Homo sapiens: one gene and its partner. The protein of the gene in region 1 interacts with the protein of each later gene in a biochemical or structural test. Each region holds a gene or a part of one and is shown on either strand. Other genes may lie near its edges.

Evidence for each region.
Region 2: of the proteins of TH (region 1) and TYSND1, one has a biochemical effect on the other in vitro, tested with the Homo sapiens proteins (one study listed by BioGRID).

The regions. Positions count from the first base shown.
Region 1 is NC_000011.10:2,166,109-2,169,184, reverse strand, and holds part of TH (tyrosine 3-monooxygenase), read left to right. Parts: intron 1-519; coding exon 520-694; intron 695-1,005; coding exon 1,006-1,094; intron 1,095-1,251; coding exon 1,252-1,319; intron 1,320-1,699; coding exon 1,700-1,750; intron 1,751-2,152; coding exon 2,153-2,298; intron 2,299-2,416; coding exon 2,417-2,552; intron 2,553-2,635; coding exon 2,636-2,705; intron 2,706-3,076. UniProt on the Homo sapiens protein: Catalyzes the conversion of L-tyrosine to L-dihydroxyphenylalanine (L-Dopa), the rate-limiting step in the biosynthesis of catecholamines, dopamine, noradrenaline, and adrenaline. Uses tetrahydrobiopterin and molecular oxygen to convert tyrosine to L-Dopa.
Region 2 is NC_000010.11:70,137,481-70,140,590, reverse strand, and holds the end of TYSND1 (peroxisomal leader peptide-processing protease), read left to right. Parts: intron 1-449; coding exon 450-667; 3' UTR 668-2,610; downstream 2,611-3,110. UniProt on the Homo sapiens protein: Peroxisomal protease that mediates both the removal of the leader peptide from proteins containing a PTS2 target sequence and processes several PTS1-containing proteins.

The DNA of each region.
Region 1 (3,076 bases):
ACTCCCCGCCCCCCAGCTCCCAGAGCCAGTTTTGTGGCCCGAGGGCCACTGCGACCCACCGCCCTTGTTGCTAGGCAACAGGAGGTGGGGGTGGAGCGGACCCTTCTGGCCAGTGTCCTGGACGCTCAGGGGCCAGTGAGACTCAGGGCCCATCCTACAAACCTGGATGAGGCCACCAGGGTTGGGGGCACCTTCTGACCAGTGGCTGAGGAGCCGGACTGTGTGGCATGGCCTTGGGACACACACACCGAGCCGCCCAGAACCAGGTTAAGCCTCAAGCGGTGACAACTCCTGGTTAGGCACGTAACACAAAATCCAACTTGCCAGTGGCAAACCCTGGCCTGGTGGCCGACAGCTGACCTGAGCCTGGAAGAACGGGATCTGTGTGCTGCTAGCACAAAAGTCAAGGGCAGGGCCTGGCCAGCCAGCCAGATGTGCCTCCTCCCCGCCCACCCCACCCTCTCTCTCCATCTCTGTCTCTTTCTCCTTCTCTCTCTCTTCCTGCTTTTGCTCCCTAAGACGTTTGAAGCCAAAATCCACCATCTAGAGACCCGGCCCGCCCAGAGGCCGCGAGCTGGGGGCCCCCACCTGGAGTACTTCGTGCGCCTCGAGGTGCGCCGAGGGGACCTGGCCGCCCTGCTCAGTGGTGTGCGCCAGGTGTCAGAGGACGTGCGCAGCCCCGCGGGGCCCAAGGGTGAGGCGGTTTTCTGTCCTTGAGGGCCACCAAATGACCTTGAGAGGCTGGGGTGCAGGGGCTCCTGCAGGGGGACCCTACAGTGACCACGTGGTGGTGGCCTGGTTCCCTCTCTGCGGGCTCCACTCCGCACCCCGTTTTGCTACACATCCGTGTCCGGGCCTGGGGCCACTCCAGGATCCCCCCGCAGCTCTCACAGCCCCGGCTGCCTCTGCCCCCCGGAAGTCTTGTAGGGGAGGCTGCTTCAAGGTGGGTGACACAGCCCCACGGCTCCGAGCTCACCAAGATCTCTTCCTCCATCACCCATAAAGTCCCCTGGTTCCCAAGAAAAGTGTCAGAGCTGGACAAGTGTCATCACCTGGTCACCAAGTTCGACCCTGACCTGGACTTGGACCACCCGGTGAGTGGTGCGCCCCTCACTCAGGCCTCCTGCCCCTGATCACATCCCCTACCCTTAGCCCAACCCTGGACAGGAGTCTGTCGGCTCCAGGAGCCTCCGTGGCCTGTGCCCCCACCCCAGCACAGCCTCCTGACCCGTGCATCCCCTCTGCCCTCAGGGCTTCTCGGACCAGGTGTACCGCCAGCGCAGGAAGCTGATTGCTGAGATCGCCTTCCAGTACAGGCAGTGAGGGGCCCCTGCGCTCGGGACCCAGACTCCGTCCTGCAGGCTGACGCTGGACCTGGGGGGTGGGAGGGAAGGACAAAGGGGAGGACCCATCTTGTCACCAGCATCAGTGCCTCCTGCCAGGCAGCTCTGCTCCAGGGCTTTCCATGTCCCCAAATCCCAGTGGGGAAACTGAGGCCCAGGGGGGCTAGAGCAACCTGCCGAGGCCACATAGCCGGCTCACGGCACAGTCAGCTGGGGTGCACCCTCCTGTCCATCCTCCAACCCAAAGGCCTCGCTGCACTAGGCGGGTGTGGACCTGTGCCCAGTGAAGCTCCCTCCCTCCCTCCTGCCCTTCTCACTCCCCGAGGGGACCTGCTGACCACTGGCCCCCTCCCCAGCGGCGACCCGATTCCCCGTGTGGAGTACACCGCCGAGGAGATTGCCACCTGGTGAGACCTCCGTGCAGCTAGGGGCTGGGGAGGAGCCCGGGGGATGCCTCCTGGAATCCTGGCGTGTGAGGGCCGCCTCCAGGGACCTTGGCACAACAGGAGAGACTAAGGCCGGGAAGAAGAGGGACTTGCAGGGCTCAGAATGTTGGGTTGGGAGGAAGAGGCTACCCATCCTGTCGGGCCATCCCCAGTGTGCTGAGGGACCGCCCCTCATGGCCCCCTATCCCCTGGGATTCCCTAAAGCCACCAGCAAAAGCCCCTCCCGGGGGCCTGGGTCTTCAGGGGTCCCCAAGAGGCCTGCGTTGGTAGGGGCTCAGGCAGGCAGAGGCACCCACAGTTCAGGAGGGGGGTTTCGGGCACTGGGGTGGGGCATTAGAGGGCCCTGAGCCTGGCTGCCCGCAGGAAGGAGGTCTACACCACGCTGAAGGGCCTCTACGCCACGCACGCCTGCGGGGAGCACCTGGAGGCCTTTGCTTTGCTGGAGCGCTTCAGCGGCTACCGGGAAGACAATATCCCCCAGCTGGAGGACGTCTCCCGCTTCCTGAAGGGTGTGCCCAGACGGGAGGGGCGCAGAGCCGGGGGGCCGGGGATGGTCAGCCAAGCGCCCCACCCCAGCGCGGCTCCAGCCCGTCCCGGCTCGGCAGTGACCCGCGTGGCCCCTTGCAGAGCGCACGGGCTTCCAGCTGCGGCCTGTGGCCGGCCTGCTGTCCGCCCGGGACTTCCTGGCCAGCCTGGCCTTCCGCGTGTTCCAGTGCACCCAGTATATCCGCCACGCGTCCTCGCCCATGCACTCCCCTGAGCCGTGAGTGCGCGCCCTGGCCGCCAGCCCGAGGGTGGGGGGTGCGACGGGCGGCCCCTCAGCCCCCTTCTCCCTCCTACGCGCAGGGACTGCTGCCACGAGCTGCTGGGGCACGTGCCCATGCTGGCCGACCGCACCTTCGCGCAGTTCTCGCAGGTACGCCGCGGCCTCGGAGGGAGCCGGGGTCACCCAGGGGCTGGCTTGGCGCCGGGGGCGGGCGGGGATCGATGTGCGGGTGGGTGAAGTGTGCTGCCTGCTCCCGGGCCCCGCCAAGGAGGCTCGGCGCCCCGAGGGTCGCGCGGCATAGGGCGGGGCTGGAGCGGAGCCTCCCACGGCCTGTGCTGCCACCTGCCGGCTACCTGGGAACGGCGCCCACGGGCTTAGGAATGTGGTCAAGGAGGGCTGCCTGGAGGAGGAGGCCCGGTGGAGGTGCGGATCCTGGGCGGCCAGGGAAGGTCTCTGCCGCCAGGGAAGTGTCCCAGAGACCCCTGGAGGGGCTGCTGACACCCCCGGTGCCCCCACCTCGA
Region 2 (3,110 bases), on another chromosome or scaffold:
ACCGAGCAGGCCAAACAAAATATGTCTGTGGGTCTGATTCATTCATTCATTCATTCATTCATTCATTCATTCATTCATTCATTCAACAAGCCTTTGTTGCGCGCCTACTTGGCACAAGGCACTGTTTCAGGTACTGGGGAGACTGCATGAACAAAACCTCAAAGTCCTGCCCTTATGGAGCTGACACTAGGTCGAGAGAAAGATAACAAGTGAAATAAGTGAACTATCTAGTGTGTTAGATTTTGAGAGTGTTAAGGAGAAAACGTAAAGCCAGGAAAGGGTGTGGGCAGCAGGTGTTCATGTCTAGAAGCTCAGCGTCTGTCACCACGTGGGGTGGTATCCAGCCCTACCAGGCCCTGGGGGCTCCAGGGTGGAGATGGTCCTCCTCCCTTCTCCAGCCTTTCTGCCCCCTGGCTCACATCCTCTTTTGCTCTCTGACTCCTCAACAGGCATAATCACCAGCAACACCCGGGACAATAATACGGGGGCCACCTACCCCCACCTGAACTTCAGCATTCCCATCACGGTGCTCCAGCCGGCCCTGCAGCAGTACAGCCAGACCCAAGACCTAGGTGGCCTCCGTGAGCTGGACCGCGCTGCTGAGCCAGTCAGGGTGGTGTGGCGGTTGCAGCGGCCCCTGGCAGAGGCCCCGCGGAGCAAGCTCTGAGGCTGTGTTACCACCTTTGGAAAGAAGAGTGACCTTTTTCTGCTGTAGGAAGTGATGTTGAGGTGACGGTGGCCTCAGGATTCAGGGCCCAGCCCCTGCAGGGGCCCAGGCTGCCTCTCATCTCCACCCACTGACTGCAGACTGGGCTTTGGGCTCTGGGGCAAACTTCTCTTCAGCCCCATGGATCCTTAACCTGGCAGCCCGTTTTGGGGTGCTTTCTTGAGCCCCCAGTTCTCTGTCCCCTAGCACTAGACTCAGCTGTATTGTTTTTCCTTCTGGGGAGCCCACTCCAACTGCACAGAAGTTCTGGGCCTGACAGGTAGATTCCAGCTGGAAGGCAGGCCCGTGCCTGGTTTTGCGTCTGTTCCCCTGAGGGCCATCGTCATCCTGGAGCTTCAATGGGGCCTTGGCTCCTGTCTGCCTCTCAGTCAGAGTCAGGGCTGACAAAGGACTCAGCTTCCTTAGCATCTCAGCAGAAACCTTGCTCTGAAGACCAGAGACAGAAGGGACAGAAACAGGAGTGCCTCCTGCTGTGCCAGGCCCATGGGCAGTGCAGGCAGATCCCTGAAGGTCAGCACTCCTGGGTCTTCATATGCCAACAGGGGCGCTCTTGACACTGTGCCTTCATTTTCCAGCCCACAGCCTGGGTCTCAGGGATCTTGAGGGGTAGAACATGTCTGGTTGGGGCTTGGGAATAAACATGATCTATTGAAAAACCTCTGTATTTATATATCAAATTGTTTCTTTTTTTCAGGAGTTGAACTGGGAATAGGCAAGTACCAGGCAAAGAAACACACCCTTTCCTTTTTTTTTTTTTTTTTTCTTTAGAGCTGTGGTCTTGCTCTCTCACCCAGGCTGGAGTGCAGTGTTGCGATCACAGCTCACTGCAGCCTCAAACTCCTGGGCTCCAGGAGACCTCCTGCCTCAGCCTCCTGAATAGCTGGGACTACAGTCGCGCACCACCACGCCTGGCTAATTTTTTATTTTTGTAGAAATGGGGTATTGCTTTGTTGCCCGTGCTGGCTTCAGCCTTCTGGTTTCAAGCAGTCCTCCTGCCTCAGCTTCCCAAAGTGCTGGGATTACAGGTGTGAGCCACTGTGCCCAACCCAGAAATACACCCTTTCTGTGCTGTTTTCTCAGCAGGGTGTGAGCTCACGGGATACGGTCCTGCCAGACTGGCCCTCATAGCTGGTCATGTGCCAGTCAGAGCTGGGTGGGGCTTGCAGGTCCCGGAAGGTGGTGGTCTTGACCTGGCAGCAGATGCTTAAAGAATGCCTAAGGTGGGTGGCAGTTGGGGAGTTCAAGGGTGAATGAGGCCAGGGCAGCCCCCAGGAGCTGAGGCCAACTCTTTGAGTCAGGACTGTGCCGTGTGCCCAGGGCCTTGCATGTGTGGGCCCTCGAGTGATTTCTACTGGCAGGCTGAAAGCCCTGTGAGGGGCGGCTGTGGGCGGAGGCCACGCAGGAAGAGTGCTTAGGAGTAACTTGTTTCTAACACCTGTGTGCTGAGTGCCAATGCTGGGTGTGGTGTTATGATATATATTGGTTTTCATCCAGCATTCCTGACTCGTAACTCTCATAGTCCTTGTTCCAGTCTTTGTTAGAATACTGGGTATGTTAGGGCTTGGGACAGGCCTCTGACCTCTGGGTATCCTTTCACTAATGTTCGCCCACCTTTTTCACAGTGGGTCCTAAAGACCTTCCCATGAGAGGGTCTCAATCCTAGGGGAAGGAATGTTGATGTCATGAACCTTCCATAAAAACCCAAGAGGACAGGGTTCAGAGAGCTTCTGGATAGCTGAACACCTGGCACTTCCTGGAGTGTGGCGTGCCCAGGGAGGGCACGGAAGCTCTGCACTCCTTCCCCTTCCCTCATTCCTTGCTCTATGTGCATCTCTTCATCTGTATCCTTTGCGATATCCTTTATAATAAACCGGTAAACATAAGTAAGTGTGTCTCTGAGCTCTGTGATCCACTCTAGCAAATTAATTGAACCCAAAAAGGAGGTCGTGGGAACTCAACTTGAAGCCAGTTGGTCAGAAGTTCTGGAGGCCTAGACTTGTGCCTGGTGTGGTTGAGGGGGGCAGTCTTGGAGACTGAACCCTCAACCTGTGGGGTCTGACAATGTCTCTGGGTAGATAGTGTTGGAACTGAATTAGAGGACACCCGGCTGATGTCCACTGCTTTTGGTGGGGAAACCCCACACACATTTGGTCACTGAAGTCTTCTGTGTTGATGATTGTGATGGCATGAGAGTAGAGGGAAAACACGATTTGAGGAGAGTTTTTCCTAAAACACGGGGCAATCACAGAACACTCCTGGGATGGTTGTTCCTCCCTTTACAGATTAGGAATGGGTCCAGAGGTCATGGCTAGTTTAAGAGAAGTTCTACAGTAAGTTAATGGTAGCAGAATCCTAGATCTGAGGTCTGACTTTGCTGTGAGAG